3 linked regions of the Homo sapiens genome follow. The protein of the gene in region 2 interacts with the protein of the main gene of each other region in a biochemical or structural test. Each region holds a gene or a part of one and is shown on either strand. Other genes may lie near its edges.

Region 1 (7,623 bases), on a different chromosome or scaffold from region 2:
CAACCATATTTTACTCTTCTTCTAATGCAGCACCACAGTGAAAAATGCAGAAGAACGTGGTCCCCTTGAAAAACACTGCAGGGCCACCAGCACAATTAACATGTTCAAGCACTATTACTAACCCTAAGGATTAACTTGGCCGGGTCAGTGGCTCACACCTATAATCCCAGCAGTTTAGGAGGCTAAGGTGGGAGGATTGCTTGAGGACAGGAGTTCAAGATCAGCCTGGGCAACATAGCAAGATCCCATTTCTACAAAAAGTTAAAAAATGTATCCAGGTGTGGTGGTGTGTGTCTGTAGACCCAGATACTCAGGAGGCTGAGGTGGGAAGATCACTTGAGCTCAGGAGTTCAAGGCTACAGTGAGCTGTGATTACACCATTGCACTACAGTCTGGGAGACAGAGCAAGAACCTGTCTGAAAAATAAAAATAAGTATTATTTTTAAAAAGGATTAACTGAAGTGAAGGTTAAAGAGTGAAATATTTTTTAAAATCTTGACAAAACTAACAAGAATTGTAAAAAAAAAAAAAAAAAAAAAAAAATTAGTACTCCAGCAAAAATACAAAGTAGAAAAAACTCAAAGAAATAGGCATGGTGTCCCTAGTCCTTAAAATGGCTCTAAGGAAAGAAGGTATGACAGTGTAGCAAAGAATTCTGACCTGAAAACATTTACTTTCACTAAGCACAGTACATTTCCACCTATGTCCCTCCATTCATTAATCTCATTTCCCAAAAAGCAACAGGCTACTGAAAAAATCCACAATGTATCTCTGATCTCTTCCTCATGATATACAAGAGCAAAGGGAGAAAAGAAAAAAGAAAATATATCTTCTGATTTGATTGAACTGAACATGGGATCAATAAGTCAGAAGAGATGGAATAATTTTTCAACATCAAAAAAGAAATCTGGTCAAAGTGTCTCACATCTGTATTCCCAACTTGGAGAGACTGAGGCAAGGCTTGCTTGAGACCAGGAGATCAAGATCAGCATGGGCAACATAGCAAGGCATCTGTCTCTACAAAAAAATTTAAAAATTAACCGCGCATGGTGGCAAGGCACCTGTAGTCCCAGCTATTCGGGAGGCTGATCGTGAGAGGATCACTTGAGCCCCTGAGGTGGAGGCTGCCGTGAGCAGTGATCTTGCCACTGCACTCCAGACTGGGCGACAGAGCAAGGAGCAAGACCCTGTAGCAAAAGAAAAAGAGGGGAGAGGGGACAGGAGAGAGGGGAGAGGAGAAAGGAAAACAAAGAAAAAGAAAAAGGAAATCTAAAAATTGCAGAAGCAAGCAGCCAAAGCATAGTAAACAAAGCTGTTTCATTAACAAGGATTCTGCACACACACATACACACTAACATATGCTATTTTCTGCTAAGATTTAAGCTGATATTGATCAGCTTATGAAAATATGGTCAAGAGGCTGTCATTCTGGTTGCTGTTGTTCAAAAAACAAAACAAAATAAAGCAACCCCACCCACACAGCTGGAAAAAAGCTTCTGACATATGAACTAAAACTTGTTTACCCAGGCCACTTCTTAATAAGAGAAATGCTTTGCAATTTAACTAGGGTTATATAAGTATTTTGCAATGTGTGATCAGTTAAAAATCTTGTTTATTTATTCCATAGTTCACAGATAGGTTATATTACTACAAGGTCAGGTTTGACATAACGGCATTTTTCCTGTTTTATAGTTTTATTCTATCACTCAGCACTTCCTGCAATGTAATTTTTGCGATTAATTTTACCTCCCTTTCCTTCAAAAAAAATTTAAAAGATTAAAAAAAAATGACGTGACAAATTAACCATTTCTTAAAATAGCTATTCCCAGAAACACGGTAGAAAAGAAATTTCAGTGATTCAACTGTCCTATCAAAATCTGGATATTGCAAAATCATACTGCCTTTCAGTAACATGAAAAAAAATCTAATTTAAATTTCAACGTGGGGATGGGGGTAATCACTCCTACTGTTTTATTTTCAAGAAATTCTCCGCCCCACGCAACACACACACATATCTCAAGGCCCTTTTTAAGGCTATCAAATATATTGGTTTTTGGAAAAGGATAGACTTTATTTGGCAAGAATAACCAAGGTCTCCAAGATAAACTAGACCCCTAAAATGAAATGCCTTCTAAAGAGGAATAACTGTAACATAGAGGAAAGAGGGCTGGGACTAGTAATTTGAAGATCTGATCTCTCTAGAACTGCACTACACCCTACTCCATCTCTTAGACAAAACAGACCAAACCTTTTTGATATTTGATTATTTTTTGAAATTGAGAAATGGTGTGGAATCAAACTTTTCTGAAAGAGTTTGGAAATTGCCTCGACGTAGGCCTAACAAGATTTAAACCTGGGGCTGTGGAACTAAAGACCTGTCCGGAACCATAACCATTACACAAACCCCTGCCCTCAGCAGGCAAAGACCTACAGGCCCTCTTAACACAAGATCTAAGTTTCAAAGTATAGTCCGGGGACGGAGACGGGGACGGGGGTTGCGGGTGGGAGGTAACAGCCTAAAGAAACGTCGTATATATCAAAGAATGTCCATTTTTTATTTTTTAAATTAAAATCTAAACCTTTAAATGTTTGGAAGCAACGCCTCAACTAAAGAGCAGTGTGGTCCAGGGTTTATGAATCCAAACTACTCTTAAAGTAAACCGAGACACTCTGCCTACAGTTTTCGGCATCAAGCGGCTCCAGCGGGCAGAGGGTTAAAAGAGGACCACATCACAGACCAGACGCCGACCGAGGAGTGAGGGCGGGCCAGCCCCGCACTGGCTGCCGCTCCAACGGAGGTCAGGACAGGGAGCCCCCCTCAACTCCCACCTGCCCCCTCGCTCCCTTGGGTATACTCGAGTCTACCCAAGTCCCCGGGATCGGGCCCCTCCCCAGGTCACCGCTCCCCCACCGTCTCTCGCGGCCCCCGCCCCGCCCCGGCGCCTTCAGCTCCAGCTGCGTCCCCTCAGCCCTGGGTCTCCTTAGTTGTCAGCCCCTTCGGCCCCTCCCCTTTAGAGGCGCCCCAGTCCTCCGTCTCCTCACCGGGGTTGGCAGTAGTCGCCGCCATGGCCGCAGATGCCACCGCCGCCGCGCCACCCCCCCCCCCAGTGGGAGGAGCCGCCGCCACCGAACCGGGAGGGAGGGGAAAAGAAAGGCCACTCCCCAGAAGCGGCGCCTGACCGCCGCCTCCGCTACCGCGGAATCCAAGATGGCGGCTTCAGCAGCCCCCAGCATCCCAGCCCCTGCGGCGGGGAGACCCCGCCTATATAGTAGGCGGAGTCAACACACGGCCAGCCTCCTAAGAAAAATTGACCAATGAAAATGCCAAATCGTCCAAGGGCAGGGCTACTCACTGCGCCAGCCAGTCCAGTGAAGGGAGGGCGAGGAAGAAGTCCAGCTGTCTCCCTAATCTCGCCCTCCTTGCGTAAGAGGTCAATGACCGAGTAACGTCATTGAAATGCAATTAAAATGGGTATTTTAGGCTGGGCGCGGTGGCTCGCGTCTGTAATCCCAGCACTTTGGGAGGCCGAGGCGGCCGGATCACCTGTGGCCAGGGGTTCGAAACCAGCCTGGCCAACATGGCGAAACCCCGTCTCTACTAAAAATACAAAATTAGCCGGGCGTGGTGGCGCATGCCTGTAATCCCAGCTTCTTGGGAGGCTGAGGCAGGAGAATCGCTTGAACCTGGGAGGCAGAGGTTGCAGTGAGCCGAGATAGCGCCACTGCACGCCAGTCTGGGCAACAAGAGCGAAACTCCGTCTCAAAAAAAAAAAAAAGGATATTTTACTAAAAACCTTCGCTTGGTGGTGGATTCGTCTGAGTGGTTGCCGTGCAGACAATGTATCTTGTAAATCCTCTTTAGGTGCTAAAGAGCACCTAAACATCACATGGTGATTTGTAATCCTTTCCAGTTTTTTTCCTCTTTTAAGGACTTTTGTCCCTGGTGAAAAAGTTAAATGACTAACTTTTGAATGCCTGCTATGGAACCGGTAGTCTAAAAGGATCCAGGTGTTAACGGTTTGGTATGGGAGATATTGCCAGCCAAAATTGGAGGCAATAGATGAAGAAAGTAATTTGAGAATGGGTAACTTCTTTGGTCAGTGACAGGGACAGAGTGAGGAGTTTTGTTTGTCTGTTTTTGAGACAGAGTCTCTCTCTGTCGCCCAGGCTGGAGTGCAGTGGCGCAATCTCGGCTCACTGCAACCTCCACCTCCCCGGTTCAAGCAATTCCCCTGCCTCAGTCTCCTGAGTAGCTGGGATTACAGGCGCACGCCACACGCCTGGCTAATGTTTTTTGTATTTTTAGTAGAGATGGAGTTTCACGACGTTGGCCAGGCTGGTCTCGAACTCCTGACATCAGGCAATCTGCCCGCCTCGGTCTCACAAACTGTTGGGATTACAGGCGTGAGCCACCACACCTGGCCAGTGAGGAGTTTTTAATAGGGAATCAATAAGATGATGGCTGTGCAGATTTATTTTCTTTTTTCTTTATTTTTTTCTGAGACGGAGTCTTGCTCCATCACCCAGGCTGGAGTGCAGTGGTGCGATCTTGGCTCACTGCAACCTCTCCCTCCCGGGTTCAAGCAGTTATCCTGCCTCAGCCTCCTGAGTAGCTGGGATTACAGGCGCGCACCACCACGCCCGGCTAATTTTTGTTTCCTGGTAATAGGAAGCATTGAGCTATTCGAGGTAGGCACTGTCCAAAATGCTTTATATGTATTTACTCATTTAATCCTCACAACAACGATGAGGTAGGTTCTACTGCTATTTCCATTTTGCAATTAAGGAAACAGAAACAAAGAGGGTAAGCAAGGGACATCCAGCAGGTAAGTAATGTGGGAGGCAAACTAAAGGAGTCTGACACTGGAAACCTGTTCCACCCATCCCCCTATTTTAGCACTACAATTTTAGCACTACAAAGTACTTCCATTTTCATGTATCGCTCACAAAATGTTTAATACAAATTTAATTAAAATTTTAACAAAAATCCCATTATGCTATTGAACAGCTTTGCATTCTTAGAAGTTGTATATGTACTGCGCAGATTACATTGATCCACTTATTTAGTTTACTGCAAAGGTATTTTAACATAATTTACATATTATTGTTTACATCTGTTAAAATTTCATTTTTCTTTCATTTTGTTGTTATATTTATAAGTCACCAAAAAGAAAAAAATCATCCACCCAAAAGAAATACATTGGCTGGGCTGGGCGGGGTGGCTGTAATCCCAGCACTTTGGGAGGCCAAGGAGGGCGGATCACAAAGTCAGGTGTTCGAGACCAGCCTGGCCAACATGGTGAAACCCCATCTTTACTAAAAATACAAAAATTAGCCGGGCATGGTGCCGCGTGCCTGTAATCCCAGCTACTCCGGTGGCTGAGGCAGGAGAATCGCTTGAACCTGGGAGGCAGAGGTTGCAGTGAACCGAGGTGCCCCTGCACTCCAGCCTGGGCGACAGAGCAAGACTCCATCTCAAAAAAAAAAAAAAAAAAATGCTGTAGCTTCTTTACCAAGTAAAATGGATTTTTCCAGAATAAATGCAAAATGTTTTCCTGTATGATGTGGATACATTTTGTGGTTAAAAGAGATCAAGTTACATTTCTGTAGAAAAAAATTGGTAGAAATCATTTTGTTATAGAGCTGCTTACACAACTAGCTACAAAGTTAATAACATATTCTGTTTGGAGACAGTGCAACAAAGCTGGCTGGGTGCAGTGGCTCACGCCTGTAATTCCAGCACTTTGGGAGGTCAAGGCAGGAGGATCATCTGAGATCAGAAGTTCAAGACCAGCCTGGCCAATATGGTGAAACCCCATCTCTACTAAAAATACAAAAATGAGCTGGGCGTGTTGGCACACGCCTGTAGTCCTAGCTACTCAGGAGGCTGAGGCAGGAGAGTCGCTTGAACCTGGAAGGTGGAGGTTGCAGTGAGCTGGGATCGATTGGGCCACTGCACTCCAGCCTGGGTGACAGAGCGAGACTCAATCTAAAAAAAAAAAAAAAAAAAAAAAAGTGTAACAAAGCTATTGGCAGAATTCTTTGTCAAATATCACATGGAGTCATGATACACAACATGAAATGGCAATATCTGCCCTGTACCTGCTACCAGATGTTTGTTTTAAGCGTAGAAACCACTGATATACACAATATGAATCCGCTTACAGCATATAGGCAATACATAAGGAGAAATGCCCAGAAACTTCCTGTCTGGTTTATCATTAAAAATTCAAGATACAAAAGAAAACATTTTTCATTTAGATAAGAATTATTTTGTGAGGTATGAGTCAGTCTGAAAAAGATATCTTGGGATCAAAACTGATGGAGTTACAGGCCAGGCATGGTGGCTCACGGCTGTAATCCCAGCACTTTGGGAGGCCAAGACAGGCGGATCACTTGGACCCAGGAGTTTGAGACCAGCCTGGTCAACATGGCGAAACCCCATCTCTACTAAAAATACGAAAATTAGTCTGGCATGGTGACACATGCCTGTAATCCCAGCTACTCGGGAGGCTGAAGCACGAGAATCACTTGAACCTGGGAGGCGGAGGTTGCAGTGAGCCGAGATCATGCCACTGCGCTCCAGCCTTGGTAACAGAGCAAGACTCTGTCGCAAAAAAAACACAAACAAACAAACAAACAAAAAAACACTGATGGAGTTATAACTTTGGATGCAGAAAGAACACTGTTCCTACAAAAAAGATGTCAGTCCACTTTCCTTTTTATTTCCTTTTTTTTTTTAGACAGAATCTCACTCTGTTGCTCAGGCTGGAGTGCAGTGCCATGATGGCTCACTGCAACCTCTGCCTCCCAAGTTCAAGCTATTCTCCTGCCTCTGCCTCCTCAGTAGCTGGAATTACAGGCGCCCGTCACCACTGCCCCGCTAATTTTTTTGTGCTTTTATTAGAGATGAGGTTTCACCATGTTGCCCAGGCTGGTCTCCAACTCCTGAGCTCAGACAATCCACCCACCTCGGCCTTCCAAAGTGCTGGGATTACAGGCATGAGCCGCCATGCCCAGCCCACTTTCCATTTTATTCAGAAAACAGTTCATAGCCAAAATATATTTCTCCCAGCCAGGCTCAATGGTGCATGCCTGTAGTCCTAGCTAATCTAGAGGCTGAGGAGGGACGATCACTTGAGCCCAGGAGTTTGAGGCCAACCTGGGAAACATAGCAAGGCCTCATTTCTAAAAAAAAAATTTCTCCTGATTTTGATTCGACATTGAACAAATTAGCACAAACCATAAATGTAGTAAAATATCATCCAGTGAGCACAATCTTTGAGAAGAAACAGATAAATTGGTGCTTTCTCCACAGTTAAGTATGGAGGCCAGTAAGGGGGGGAAATGCTGTCAGTTTTTAATAAGGATTGAAGTGAAAATCTCTTCTTTATGATATAGATAATACTAACATAAACCATTTTTATTATTTTAAGTAGGATTTAAGTAGGTTTCTCAAATGGTTCATCTGAGCAATATTTTCATTAACATGAACATATTACTTTAACTTCTAAATGTCATGGTTTGGAGTTTTGTTTTTGTTTTAGAGATAGAGTCTCACTCTTTCACCCAGGCTAGAGTGCAGTGGCACCATCATTGCTCACTGGAACCTCGAACTCCTGG
Region 2 (7,133 bases):
GACAGTCTTTATGGAGTAAGTCTGGGCCAAAATGATAATTGACAATGTTATTTACATGGATTTCTAAGTTGGCTAAAAAAGTTCCTTTATGGTTAGTGAATATAGCCCATGTAGTTTCCCCGTCTTCTTTAGATGCCTTCTATTTCTATGCCCAAAGTCTGCAGTTGATTTTCAGTAAGCTGGGGGTCATCTTAGAGATAAAATGTAGATGAATGGCATTTTGCTGACAGCATACATCTTTGCTATTTCTGAGGAAAATGGGCTCTCGCTATTAAATCTTTTGTCAATATTTATAAAAATAGTATTTACATATTCTATCTATATTGTGGAAACTATACATTTATTGATTCAGTCATTTGATATCAATGTTGTTGAGTCCCTATTCCAAGTGAGGCACTATGCTCTAAGCACATGGCATTTTAAAGATGAATAAGACACCAAGAACTTTGCAGATAGTAATGGAAATGAGAATTAATCAATTGAAGATTAATATAGTAAGTAGCAGAAGAGAAATAAAAAAATCTTCTAGAGAGTTCAGAACAGGGATGTTGATTCAAGTTTATGGGGATTAGGAGTGGCTGGTAAGGGAGGCATTCAGGCAAAAGACATAAAAATGCAGTATTCCCCTCGCACTCATTAGGATGGCTACTATATTAGAAAAAGAAGAGAGTAAGTGTTGGAGAGGATATAGAGCAAATAGAAACCTTGTGCCTTGTTCATGAGAATGTAAAATGGTGCAGCCACTGTGGAAAACACTGGTGATTCCTCAAAAAATCAAAATAGAATTATCATATGATCCAGTAATTCTACTTCTGGGTATATATCTAAAAGAATTAAAAATCTGGGTCTTGAAGAAATATTTGTATACTCATAGTTATAGCAACATTATTCATAATAGCCAAAAAGTAGAAGCAATCCAGATGTCTATAGATGGATGAATGGGTAAACAAAGTCTGTGTAGTATATACAGACAATGGCATATTAGTCACATCATGGACCTTCAGGACATTATCCTAAGTGAAATATGCTAGACACAAAAAGCAAAAGTAGGGTTTCACTTAATGAGGTATCTAGAATTGCCACATTCACAGAGAACAAAAGTAGATTGGTGGCTGCTAGGGGATAGGGGAAGGAGAAAATGGGGAATTATTGTTGAATGGGTATGGAGTTTCAGTTTTGTGAAATGAAAATGTTCTGAAGACTGGTTGCACGATGATGTGAGTATATCTAACATGATTGAATTGATGAACACTTAAGCGTGGTTACGATGGTAAATTTTGTGTTATATATATCTTACCACAATTTAAAAAATATAGCATTTTATTATGTAGGCGTGGGTGGGAAGATACTTGACACATTGGAACTTCTGGCCATGCGTATACTGTTCACTCACTTATTCCTTCATTCATTCAACAAACATGTATTGAATGCTTGCTATGTGCTGGGCACTGAGCTAGATATAACAATTAATAAGGCTTATAAGACATTGAATCTATCAATTTCATGCTTGCTAAATATCTACTCCCACCTCCAAAGGCACTAAGCTTCTACAGTTAGATATTCATAGCTGCTTCCTACTGACTTGAATCATGCATAGGATATTAGTAAACAAGCAATAAAAAGATTTGAGGTTGATGGGGGTGGGTTCAACAGCATGGTGGTGAAATGGAAAGAGATGGGTAACAGAATATGAACTAGAATTGAAAACTGTGAGCCAGTGCTCTCTAATGAACATTAAAAAATAAAGAATTCCTATTTGAGGCTGCCAACCTCAGAACTAAGTTATTTAGAATGGACGAAATTGGCAAAGTCAGACGTACTCAACCCAAGGAGCCAATATTTTGTGAATATTATGGCAAATGTAGTTTGAGAACCACTACCACAAAATTGTGAACCATAATAATGACTGAGAAGGCAGGGAGAGGTTATACAATTTGGGCTAAAAGGAAAGACAGGGCTTGTGAAGGGGAGCGCCAGTGAAAGTCAGTGTGGTTCGGGTATTTGGGTGGGGACTGGAAGCAGGAAGCTTGAGCTTCCTTTGCCAAGAGACCCTGCTGGAAGGGCTATCATCAATTGACTTTAGCTCATCTTAGGATTTTCATTTTTTAAAAAATGTTCACAGGAACCTTCACTCCATCTATACTTTCAATGTCTGCCTACCTTTCTTTCTTATACAACTTTGAACACTCTCTCCATTCATTTAAATATATTATGGAGTGCCAACTACATGCCAGGTACTGTGCTGGGCTCTTATTCCACCTTTATTTGATTGCACATGCCTGCCAAGTCCTGGGCCAATATAACATCTACTCCTATGTCTGGTCTGGCGAGAGATGCAAACTCATCTTCCTCTACTTTCCTTACCTCCTTCCTTCCAGTCTTCTTCAAGTTGTCTTCATTGAGGCAATTTCTTTTACCTGTGTTTTTAATCCCAACTCCTCTAGTTTCCTTCTTGGCTTTATTCTTTTATCTTCCTCTTTGTGCTTTCAAACATTCCCTTTCTCCTGGCCCATGCCCTTCAGTCTACACGAGGCCTTCTCAAGTCTCTTCATTCTAAAAAATTCATTTTCTTGGGTCTTATATTCTTCAGCTGCCACCCTATCTGTATCTTTTCCTATTCTCCTCCAAGTTCTCAAAGGAATGCCTTCCCTCATTTTCATCTCCTTACATTCCATCTGCTGAATTTTGGCTTGTGCCTGTACCTGTCTAAGGAAACTCCTTGCTAAGAGTCTGCTTTGTCAGGTCTGAATTCACTTAACCAGTCTTTGCTTTGTTGGACTTCTCTGCCCCATTTGCCATTCTTGATCATCCTCTCCATAAACCTTTCTACTTAAAGCATTTTACTTCCTTATTTTCTTGGTTTTCCTAGAATCTCCTTACTGTTCATTTTCAGCTTCCTTTCTGTGTTCCTCTTCTCTTCCTACATTTTTTTTTAGCTTTCTACTTTCTTAAAGCATTTTACTTCCTTATTTTCTTGGTTTTCCTAGAATTTTCTTACTGTTCATTTTCAGTTTCCTTTCTGTGTTCCTCTGATTGTCTCTCTTTCTACATTTTTTTTTTCTGTGTTCCTCTGATTTTCACGCAGTCTGGAGTTGTCATGATCAATCATAGCCTACTGCAGCCTCGACATCCTAGGCTCAAGTGATTCTCCCACCTCAGCCTTACAAGTAGCTAGGACTACAGTCACACATCACCATTCTCAGCTAATTTTTTTAAGAAGCATTTTTATAGAGATGGAGTCTTGCTATATTGTGCAGGCTGGGCTCAAACTACAGGGCTTAAACAATTCTCCTGCTTTGGCCTCCCAAAGTGCTGGGATTCCAGGCATGAACCACCATGCTCAGTCTCTACATGTTCCTAAAGAGGAGTTTTGAATATTGAAGAACAGTATTTTCAAATTACATTATTCAAGTTATAAAAACTGATATCCAGGGTTATGTGGCAATGACGTAAAAATTTGAATTGTTATTTTTTTGACACATGTTCTGTGTTGTCCATCAGTTCATCTGAGTTCCAAATGTCCCAGCTGTTTTATGCTTTGTCTCTGTTTCCCAGAGACCCTGAGTGTGGTCTAGAGTTGGGATGAGCATTGGTCTCTAATGGTTCTGAAATAATTGTATATTCCTGCAAAAACATTAAGTCTATTAGAAACCAGCTAATTTCATTTTGTCATTTTTATAGGTAACATATTCTGGTGCAGGTAGTATGTTTTTAAAACAAGTTTGCAATAAACAATTTCCCCTCAAGGTTAATATAATAGGCAACACCTTTTGCTGCAACAGACGGCAAGAGGTAATGAAAGATTAGCTTACATTATGATTCATTATTTCAAAATGTCAGGATAAAGTGGATCTGCTGCATCTCCCAGAGAGTGCATGTTTTGCTTTTCTAATGTTAATGGATTTACTGTTTTTTTCCCCCCAGGCCAAATTCAGATAATCGACGCCAGGGTGGCAGAGAAAGATTGGCCAGTACCAATGACAAGGGAAGTATGGCTATGGAATCTGCCAAGGAGACTCGCTACTGTGCAGTGTGCAATGACTATGCTTCAGGCTACCATTATGGAGTCTGGTCCTGTGAGGGCTGCAAGGCCTTCTTCAAGAGAAGTATTCAAGGTAATAGTGTGTTGAAAACGACTTCTATTTTTGATCCTATGAGCAGATCCTAAGAGCCAAAGCGACTGAGGAAGGAAGACATAGAATCAGCCATTTGTACAAAACATGAATCCCTAGTAGGTCCACTAGTATCTTTGGTAGAAACATGGAGAAGAGACAGGATCTCAGGAGAAGGAGTTGACACATGGCAGGGCAGCTGAGGCTGAGTAATTCCGCTTCCTTCCTTTGGCAAGACTCAATCAGTCTTGAGCAACTCTACAGAAGAATTCCACTAGCTGGATCTCTGAGGAAAAAAGAAATGTTGTCTGTGCCCTGACTGGGGAATGCCAGATGGACATTCATGTTTGGTAGGCAACTTTGCCTATATGATCTGGTATATGCTGTTAATTGTCCATGCATAATTATCTCTCTACTCAGGCCTTGTCCAGGCAAATATTCTGTTTTGTTCTAGTTTAGCTTGTTCTCCCCTTTCTCTCTTCCATCTCTTTCTTGTCTCAATGGATGACAGGATATTTTGCTATGAGCTGACTCAGTGGTTGGTGTCTTGTAATGGGGAGATATCATCTTTATCAAACAGTTATTAAGTATCTACCTGTAGCATTTCATTTTCCCGCCTGCCTCCATTGTTTTCTTGTCTATAGTTTGCCAATTATAGCTAATATACGGAGAGCTATACTTTATTTCTACTCCAGAAATGTCTCTATTATTGCATTATAATAGGATACCCTGGGGAAACACTAATCATTTTTACTACCTAAAATACCTATGCTGAATATCCTTTATCTGATAGGAACAGAGATCTGACAGCAGCTTAGGCTAACCAAATTCATTTTTTATCTTAAGTGTGGGGCATTTTTCTCTCTTCTTATTCTTTACCTTTTCAGCTTAAGTGAAGGTTAGTATAAACACTAAGAATATTTCTGATGGAGTTTTCATGTGATTCCTTCTACAAAAACCCAGATTTAAGTAACTTGTTGAAAACCAGAGTCCGCTAAGTTAATAAACACTGATTGAAGAAGTGATTCTCATGGACTTTCTGTGATAGCTCTTTCCTGCCCTGATATGAGATGAAAGCTGGGGGATGGTATATAGTATTTATTTTTCCTTCCGTTGCCAGTGGGACTTTTTTTTTTTTTTTAAAAGCTGTTCATATCTTAATCGAGTAGCATGTGAGGTCAACATGGTCTATTTTAAAAGCATTTTCTTCGACACATTGCTTTTAACATCTTTTAGAACTCTGCTGTGAGACACATGGACTTTTTTGTTGGTATTTTTATACAATTAATGATATTCTCAATAGTAATCTTTGTGTGTGTATATATATAGAAATAAATTCTAAATGTAAGTTAATATATTTATTATTTTTCTAAACATATATAAATATATATATGCACACAGGCTATTTAATTTTATTAGATGATGCTATTTTAATTCAGAAAAAAATGACATTTATATTTTGATTTAGGTTAGTATAAGCCCTTAGAGGTGTTTTGACAACTCTCTTAATTTGTGGTTTTACTGTTTATTTGATTTTATATAATCTAAAATACCATTGTTTTTACCAAGCATTTAATTTGGCAGTGAAAGAGCGTCTGACAGAGGTATGGTTAGTAGATAGGTCTAACTGCACAACTGGATGGATTGAGCTGAGACTGTTTCCTCATCAGTAAAAATGATTTGAAGCAGTGGTTGGCAAAGTTTTTCTGTAAAGGGCCAGATAATAATATTTTAGGCTTTACAAGGGCCATGCAGTCTCTGTTGCAGCTACCGAACTGGATTATAGCCTGTAAGGTGACCTGTAAACACATGGAAGTGATTATGTGCTAATAAAACTTTATTTATCAGAATAGGTAACAGATCAGCCCTGGCCCGTGGCCGATCCCTGATTTAATGTTTATTTATCTGATCTAAATACCTTTATTTATGGAAGGGAATAGGGGATTTTTAAATCTAAAGTTTTGATTATTCACATTTTACTGAGAACTTACTCTATACCTGATTAGATGTTCCGAGAGAAATAAAAAAAAAGTGTAAGACATAATCCATAATACCACAAAATTTAAAATGTATTTAGGAAATTTATTTGAGGAAGTAAATGTACTTGTTCTCATGATACAATCAGAAAGTAAGTCAGTATTGATAAAGTGTTACCTGTATGAGAAAGATAAGGAAAACAATAGAGAGATGTAAGAAATGAAAATACCAGTTATAAATTAAAATTATTAAGATTGAAAGTGGAAATGATCTTCCTCCGAGAAACAATGGCAATATTCTCACAAATTTTTTACATCATTTTTGTTCAGCATTTAAGATAAAATTATATAAATTCCCATAACATTTAGTATTGTCTCTAAGCATTAAGAACAGAAAAAACAGAAGGAAAATATATTTCTAAAAATCAACGAATACAGTGTGAGATGTTTCATTGGTATGGCATTATCTCAAGTTCAAACATTTTGAAAAATGTCTGCTTACTCTTTGATAGTTAAAAACAAGTATCTCAGCTGGCGTGGTGGCTCAGGCCTGTAACCCCAGCAGTTTGGGAGGCTGAGGCGAGTGGATCACAAGGTCAGGAGATCGAGACCATCCTGGCCAACATGGTGAAACCCCATCTCTACTAAAAATATGAAAATTAGCTGAGCGTGGTGGTGCACACCTGTAGTCCCAGCTACTTGGGAGGCTGAGGCAGGATAATTGCTTGAACCTGGGAGGCAGAGGTTGCAGTGAGCTGAGATCATGCCACTGCCGTCCAGCCTGGTGACAGAGTGAGACTCCATCTCAAAAAACAAACAAAACAACACCACCACCACTAACAAAAACCTCTTATCGCCGTCTTGTATACGCAGACCAGCTAGTAGAATTTTACTGAAACAGTAGCCTATAAAAATGCAATTCCACTTGGTTTCAGAAACTTCTTGTGTATCATAGTGTGAAGTCACTTATCTTAGGCTTTTAAAATGGGATAAATATTGAGTCCAAAGTTCTGGAAGAAGCCTAGAAAGAAGGCAGAGTTATTAA
Region 3 (7,924 bases), on a different chromosome or scaffold from region 2:
AGAGAGCACGGAGTCGCATTCGCCTTAGTCTCATCAGCCTGCCCATGAAGGAGAATGGGGAACTCAGGTGCCCTAGGGGCTGGGCTGAGATCTCTCCAGCAGAAGGATATCATCTTGGCAGCCTCGGCCTCACCCTCGGCCTGCACAATTTTCTGCCGCTGTTCCTGCTTTGCTTTTTCTACCAAGAATTGGGCCCGCTGGGCCTCCTGCTGGGCTGTGGTGGGAGAGAGTCAGGGAGACCCTGTCCTGGGTCAGGAGCCCCACCCATGGAGTCTTTCCTCCTCCTGCATCTCAGAAGCCCTCACCCCACGGCTCTTGCGACTCACCCACTTGTTTGGCTTCTACAGCAGCTGTGTACTCTCGGCTAAAGCTCAGCTCTGTGATGGCCACATCATCCAGGATGAGGCTGAAGTCCTTGGCCCTCTCTGTCAGCTCCCGGCGGATCAACAGGGATACCTGAGGGCAGGGGTGAAGAGGGGAAGGGAGGGGTGGTTTGAGGGGACTGGGGAGCTGAAAGGAAGGTTGCGACCCCTAACCCTTCACTCTCAATACAACATGCACTGCCTTAGCTTCCTGTCAGGCAAACCTGTAACATAAGCCTCTCTGCTCGAAGAGGTGCAGGAAAAGCCAAGACTTGGCCATTTTCCTCTGTGCTTCCTAACACCGAGTGCTATCGAGTTCTAATGCTGGCTCTCCTTATTTCACAGTGGCAATTAGCACAGCTTTTAGGTGGAAATGGCACTAGGGTGACAATGCTTTTCTAATAAGCTGCCTTTCCTAATTCCCAATACTCTGGGCCTAGGAAGGAAAGGCTGACACCACGCAGATGGTGGTGGGAGTCAGACCTGGGCCCGCTGGGTGATCAGCTGTGAGGCATTGAACTTGGCCACCACACTCTTGAGCACCTCGTTGACAATGGACGGCAACACTCGTTCCTCGTAGTCCAGCCCTAGGCGCTGGTACATGCTAGGAAGCTCCTGAGCATTGGGTCGAGACAACACTCGCAGGGAGATATTCACCATCTGTAGGTCTGAGATTGAGGTCAGCAGTGGCTGGTCAAGGCCAAACACCCTTTCCCAAGCATTTTCTCCTTCATGTTCCTCCCTGTATGCCCTGTGCAATGGTGTACAGCCTGGCACTACCCTGGGGGGAGGAGAGTTAATCAGGCTGACAAGGAAGACAAGACGCAGCACAGCTGAAATGCACCCTCACCCACTGTGAAGCCTTGAACTGCAAACCCCGTCACCAGCAGAGCTGACTACTCTTTCCCCCTCTGTACTCTGTGCAACCTCTAACGTGGGCGCTTTCGTGCTGTACCGTAATCATGTCTCCTGTAAGGACTTGGGGGACAAGAATTGTGTTTAATGAATCTTTTATTCCCAGGGCCCAGTCTAGTAAATGAATAAGCGACCTGCACTAGGTATAGCACAAAGAAGTACATTACAGGTTACAGGTGAGCTACCTGACCCAGGGTGTATATGTGTGCGTGGGTGGGGAGGAGGAAGAGGTCTGGGGAACTCAAAGGCACGGCTTTTATGTATGGTCTAGAAGGAGAGAACAGGTGAACTAGTCAAGCTTAGGGACAAACTTCTCCAGAACAGAGTGTACTAGTGGATGTAACTGTAGATATAGTAAGTCAAGCAGTTAGAAAAAAAAGGCTTTAAAACAAAGCTTTGATCTAGGCAGTGAACAAGACGAGGGACAAACAATACTCTTATTGAATACACGTCAGGGAGGAGACAGTAAAAAGCACGCAAACACAGTGTGTTCAGAATTTGCTGCTTTGACCCCAGGAGGCAGGTATTTTTGTTACAGCTCTTGCAGATGTGGAAAGAGGCCTAAAGGCCTGACACTACCATATTCCCCTGGGGTTTCTTGCCAGCTACCTTGATCATCCCACCTGCCATGTGATTACCAAGTGCTCAGACCTACCTTTGGAGCCTGTAGGGGAGGAGATTTTTCGAGGTCTGGCCCGAATGTCATAGATAATGGGGTACTGGAACCAAGGGATCCTGGAGAGGACAGGGATAGGTATTAAGAGGCCACAGTTTCGGCCGGGCGCGGTGGCTCACGCCTGTAATCCCAGCACTTTGGGAGGCCGAGGCGGGCGGATCATTTGAGGTCAGGAGTTCGAGACCAGCTTGATCTACATAGTGAAACCCCGTCTCTACTAAAATACAAAAATTAGCCGGGCGTGGTGGCGGGCGCCTGTAATCCCAGCTACTCGTGAGGCTGAGGCAGGAGAATCGCTTGAAATCAGGAGGCGGAGGTTGCAGTGAGCCGAGATCGCGCCACTGCACTCCAGCCTGGGCGACAGAGCAAGACTCCCTCTCCAAAAAAAAAAAAAGAAAAGGCCGCAGTTTCACTAGCCTTGCCCGGTTTCCCCTCACCACGCGTTTTTTGGCCTGCTCCTCTCCACGACCACAGACAAGGAGAGATTCTCTTGTCCCTCTGGAAAACAACAGTTTGTATGCTGCTGGAGGTTCTCGCAGCACCCACTATCCTAGGGGCAGGGATGAGGAGGGTGGGAAAAGAGCAGCGTTGAATCCTGTTGCACGTCCGACTATAGCCACTGCTGGGTCGGCGTCAAGGGTGAAAGGTCAGGGTCAGCAGGCTCTGCCCGCCATTACCTGAAGTGAAGGCCCTCGGCCAGGATAGTGTCCTGCTGCACTCCACCGATCCGATTGAAGAAGATGGCTCTGTGCCCGCCTTCCACTGTGGGGAGATGGGTGGTGATCAGGCCAGGCCGCTGCTCAGAGGAAATGCTAGGCCCGTGGAGGGGCGCGGGGACAGGGCAAGGGGTTTGGGGGAGGGACTGGAAGCGTCCGGCGAGCAGGCGGAGGTTGCTCACCGGTGAACACAGATTCGCGCACACCGTAGGCCACGGCGCCGGCCCCCAGCAACAGCTTCAGGGCCGTGCCCATGCCCCGGGGCCCGGCGGGCAGCCGTCCCGCCAAGTCCTTCAAGTTCTGGGCCATGTCTGATCTTGAGGCCGGCGGCACTGGAGGTCAGAAGGGGGTGCCGGCCCGCCTCTACCCCGCTCCGGCTTAGGTACTGCACCCTTCACACGAGGGTTCGGGCCCGTAAGGCTGGCGAAAGAAAGGGCAGCGGAAGTGCGCTCCCTTTGAAACCCTCCCCCTTAGCCCACTACGGACCCGAACTTCGCGCACAGGAATCGCGCATACGGAAGTCCCGCCCCTTTCTGGAAGGCTGCCCTCCCAGGGAGGGCAGCGCAAGACAGCAAGTCATCTCCATTTCCTGGCCCACTTTCAAAATGGCAGCCGGAAGGAAATTTGTGATTAGAAGCCGCGCTGTTCTTATTTAAGAGCGTTAGCGCAACTTCCGGTATTGTTGCAAGATGGCCGCGCCCAGTGATGGATTCAAGCCTCGTGAACGAAGCGGTGGGGAGCAGGCACAGGACTGGGATGCTCTGCCACCCAAGCGGCCCCGACTAGGGGCAGGAAACAAGATCGGAGGCCGTAGGCTTATTGTGGTGCTGGAAGGGGCCAGTCTGGAGACAGTCAAGGTAGTTTGGGACAGGAAGTGGAGAAGTAGTAAATCGATAGGTTGGGACTCCGTGGAATGAGGGTAAGGGGCCCAGAGTGGATGTAGAAAGCAGAGAGGGGTGAAAGATGCTTTTGAAGGAAGGTGGCTTGGTTGGCTTTGCGTTGATTTGACATCCTGGGATGGTAGTACTCATTTTTCTTTCTTTTTTTTTTTTTTTTTGAGACGGAGTCTCGCTCTGTCGCCCAGGCTGGAGTGCAGTTGCGCGACCTCGGCTCACTGCAACTTCTGCCTCCCGCCTTCAAACAGTTCTCCTGACTCAGCCTCTGGAGTAGCTGGGACTACAGGCAGGTGCCACCACGCCCGGCTAATTTTTTTGTATTTTTAGTTCAGATGGGGTTTCACCATGTTGGCCACGCTGGTCTCGAACTCCTGACCTCAAGTGATCCGCCCGCCTCGGCCTCCCAAAGTGTTGGGATTAGAGGCGTGAGCCACTGTGCCCGGCCGGTAGTACTCATTTTCTTTTGCTCTTTTTGAATGATATTCTAGCCCTCACCTCCTTGCTTCCAATTGGTTTACCAGGATTCTGTGGTATAGTAGTCTAAGCAGAGGAAAGTTTCGTTCCTTGCGTCATTCCACATCCCAAGACAAGTTACTGGGCAGATGAGAAACGTAGTTATGTAGCCTAGTCTGCCCACACTTTTTGTAAGGGCTTCGTGTTTCAATTCATTAGTATCCATAGTCACCTCTCTCTAATATCCACCTATGATACACTGTCCAGACCTGGTTATTATTTAAAACTTTTACATCTGCATTTTTATCTATCATTCATCTCTTTCCCCACATGTAATAGAACCAGCAGTTCTCTATCTTAAAGCCTTGGGCAGTGTTCTTCCTCCTCCTTTCTCTTACCCGTTAGAACTAATTGAATAGGCCCAGAAGAAATCGCATTGGTTTAGAAGTCAGGCCAGGATTTTAATCTTCGTTCTAAATACACTTTTTTTTTTTTTTTTTTTTGAGATGGAGTCTCAGTCTCTACCAGGCTGGAGTGCAGTGGCACGATCTTGGCTCACTGCAGCCTCCGCCTCCCGGGTTCAATCGATTCTCCTGCCTCAGCCTCCAGAGTAGCTGGGATTACAGGCCTGCGCCTGTAATCTATTAAAAGAATAGAAAACATGATTATATCCTACTAATGGGTTGAAACTGTATTATTCATTCAAGAAGGTTTTTTTCTTCTATAACTAAGGGTGTCTCATGGACTTAGTTCTTGGTCATTTGTTCTTTGTGCTCTCTGTGACATTACTTCAACTATTCAATTTCAAAATCTACATCCCTTTTTTCGCAGACTTTTTGGAGCCATATATCTCAAGAATGTTGCTAGACATATACATTCCAGTGATACATAAAAACTTAACCTTCCAAAACTTGTATTTGTATATAACAGTTTGTTTTTAGACTTTTTACTGACCACCCTAATGCTCCTTGGGACTCCAAATTGCAACTTGGAATTATTTCTTTTAGCTGCTACAGATGTAGTCCACTTCTTTAACATCAAACTTCTGATGTCTTTTCCAGTGTACAGAGAGTTGTTAGGATAGTGTCTGTCAGTCATTCCCATCCTGCCCTGCTTACTCCAGAATTATTTTTGGCTTTGTGCTTGATACATTAGGATTCTGTGGTTTACAAAGCAGCTTCATATATAATCACTGCCCTTTAGTGTCTCAGCTCCCAATTTTCCTCAAAATTTCCTTTCTTCGTTTCCACTTTTTCTTTTTTGTTTCTTTTTTGAGATAGGGTCTTGCTCTGTTGCCTGGGCAACAGAGTGCAGTGGTGTGATGGTTCACTGCAGCCTCTACTTCCCTGGCTCAAGCAGTCCTCCCACCTCATCCTCCTGAGTAACTGGGACTGCCAGCAAATGGCACTGCGCCTGGCTAATTTTTTTTTTTTTTTTTGTGAGACAGGGTCCCACCGTGTTGCCCAGGCCGGTCTCAAATTCCTGGGCTCAAGTGATCCTTCCACCTCGGCCTCCTAAAGTGTTGGGATCACAGGCATAAGCCACCACACCTGGCTACTTTGTCTTGATTCCATCTGTACCTTTGCTCATGCCAGTCTTTCTTTTTTCTTTTTTTTGAGACAGGGTCTTGCTGGAGTGCAGTGGTACAGTCTTGGCTCACTGCAATCTCTGTCTCCTGGGCTCAAGCCATCCTCCCACCTTAGCCTCCCAAGTAGCTAGGACTACAGGCATGTGCCACCATGCCCAGCTAATTTTTGTATTTTTAGTAGAGATGGGGTTTCGCCATGTTGCCCAGGCTGGTCTTGAACTCCTGACCTTAAGTGATTTGCCTGCCTTGGCCTCCCAGAGTGCTGGGATTACAGCCGTGAGCCACTGCATCTGCCCCCATGCCCGTCTTAAAACTGGGAATAACCCCTCTTCCTTTTACTTCTGAGAGTTTTCTTTGATTAAACTGCCTCCTGCATCATTAGTTTTCACATTTCTTTTTTTTGAGATGGAGTCTCGCTCTGTTGCCCGGGCTGGAGTGCAGTGGCGCTGCAAGCTCCGCCTCCTGGGTTCATGCCATTCTCCTGCCTCTGCCTCCCAAGTAGCTGGGACTACAGGCGCCTGCCACCATGCCCGGCTAATTTTTTATATTTTTAGTAGAGATGGGGTTTCACCGTGTTAGCCACGATGGTCTCAATCTCCTGACCTTGTGATCTGCCCGCCTCGGCCTCCCAAAGTGCTGGGATTACAGGCGTGAGCCACCACGCCCGGCCTTCACATTTCTTGTTCAGATTTGCAGCTCTTCACTTAGTGCATGTTTGGTGTACGCAAACTGAGGGTGGTGACTCGATATTTTGCACAGTACCTACTTACTGCTCCTGTAATAAACACAGCATTCAGCCTTGCTAACTACTAACTCCTGCCTAGTTCCAGGATGTCTCATTGGCCTTGCCTAACAGCCACAGGTTTTTTAATTAAATCCAGTGTATTAGTAGATAATGTGAAGTCACAGGTTGTGCCCTTCCTCCTGTTTCCCTCTCAGACCATTCACTGGGGAGTGCAAATAAGGCTGCACAGTAATCCCCCGAAGGGCTTGCTGGGCTCCACCCCCAGTGTTCCTGGTTTAGTAGGTCTAGGGTGGGCCTGAGAATTTGCCTAACAAGTTTCCAGGTGCAGCTGCTGCTGGTAGTTTGGGGACCACACTTGAAGAACCACGGGGCTAGGTAACAGAAGCTTATGCTGTTCTCTCGTCATGTTCCCTGTTCTTCAGGTAGGGAAGACATATGAGCTACTCAACTGTGACAAGCACAAGTCTATATTGTTGAAGAATGGACGGGACCCTGGGGAAGCGCGGCCAGATATCACCCACCAGGTAACTCCAGGGACAGTGCTCACAACCCTTTGAGCCTCTGTATGGAAGGGTTGGCAGCTGAGTGCTGCCTCTCTTCAGCCTTAACCATGTCTCGGTTTCTGCTTTGCTCAGAGTTTGCTGATGCTGATGGATAGTCCCCTGAACCGAGCTGGCTTGCTACAGGTTTATATCCATACACAGAAGAATGTTCTGATTGAAGTGAATCCCCAGACCCGAATTCCCAGAACCTTTGACCGCTTTTGTGGCCTCATGGGTAAGAAGCCTTAGAACAAAGTTAGAATGAACTTGTCAGTAGGGAAGAAGGGAGGAAGAGGAAAAGGGAGAACTAAATGTGGATTTTTAAGCGAGAAAATGGGAGAACAACATGATTAATACCAGGACAAGGACTGTTATTATTTTTCTATGTTTGTGGAAACTCCACTCCTGTTCTTGCAGTAGCTTCCTGGCTGAGTGAAAGAGGGAGTCTGAACCCATCACTGTACAGCTAGCCATATGCTTGGCAACTGTTTGTTCCTAACATTTCAGGAGTCCAGTCTAGATATAAAGCACACAGGGAACTCATCTTATCCATGGGGTTTTCCTTGTTCGATGACTGGACAGAAGGACTGTGGTCTCCATCTAGCTCTGAACTCTTTTTTCCCCCTTCTAGTTCAACTTTTACACAAGCTCAGTGTTCGAGCAGCTGATGGCCCCCAGAAGCTTTTGAAGGTGAGGTATTGAAACCTGTTAGTTGAAGGCTGGTTCTGGGAATGTTTCTGGGGCTGACTTTTCTCTCTTTTTTACTTTAGGTAATTAAGAATCCAGTATCAGATCACTTTCCAGTTGGATGTATGAAAGTTGGCACTTCTTTTTCCATCCCGGTTGTCAGTGATGTGCGTGAGCTGGTGCCCAGCAGTGATCCTATTGTTTTTGTGGTAGGGGCCTTTGCCCATGGCAAGGTAAGGTCTGGGCTCAACCCTGAAATTCTTGGTAGAGCTGAACTTAGTATAGAATTCCCAGAGCAGTAGGCATTTTAACAATGCTTACAATGAGCTAGAAGACACATGACA

Evidence for each region.
Region 1: the proteins of ESR1 (region 2) and ARNT form a complex in vitro, tested with the Homo sapiens proteins (2 studies listed by BioGRID).
Region 3: the proteins of ESR1 (region 2) and PHB2 form a complex in vitro, tested with the Homo sapiens proteins (3 studies listed by BioGRID).

Annotation. Positions count from the first base shown.
Region 1 is NC_000001.11:150,873,501-150,881,123, forward strand, and holds the start of ARNT (aryl hydrocarbon receptor nuclear translocator), read right to left. Parts: upstream 3,100-7,623; 5' UTR 3,068-3,099; coding exon 3,043-3,067; intron 1-3,042. UniProt on the Homo sapiens protein: Required for activity of the AHR. Upon ligand binding, AHR translocates into the nucleus, where it heterodimerizes with ARNT and induces transcription by binding to xenobiotic response elements (XRE).
Region 2 is NC_000006.12:151,838,673-151,845,805, forward strand, and holds part of ESR1 (estrogen receptor), read left to right. Parts: intron 1-3,924; coding exon 3,925-4,115; coding exon of another isoform or gene 4,116-4,121; intron 4,122-7,133.
Region 3 is NC_000012.12:6,967,566-6,975,489, forward strand, and holds the start of PHB2 (prohibitin-2), read right to left. Parts: upstream 3,100-7,924; 5' UTR 2,979-3,099; coding exon 2,852-2,978; intron 2,716-2,851; coding exon 2,631-2,715; intron 2,013-2,630; coding exon 1,933-2,012; intron 1,031-1,932; coding exon 846-1,030; intron 457-845; coding exon 327-456; intron 215-326; coding exon 111-214; intron 42-110; exon of another isoform or gene 1-41. Other genes in the region: EMG1 (ribosomal RNA small subunit methyltransferase NEP1), read left to right, coding at 3,359-3,526, 6,774-6,875, 6,987-7,128, 7,525-7,583, 7,664-7,813.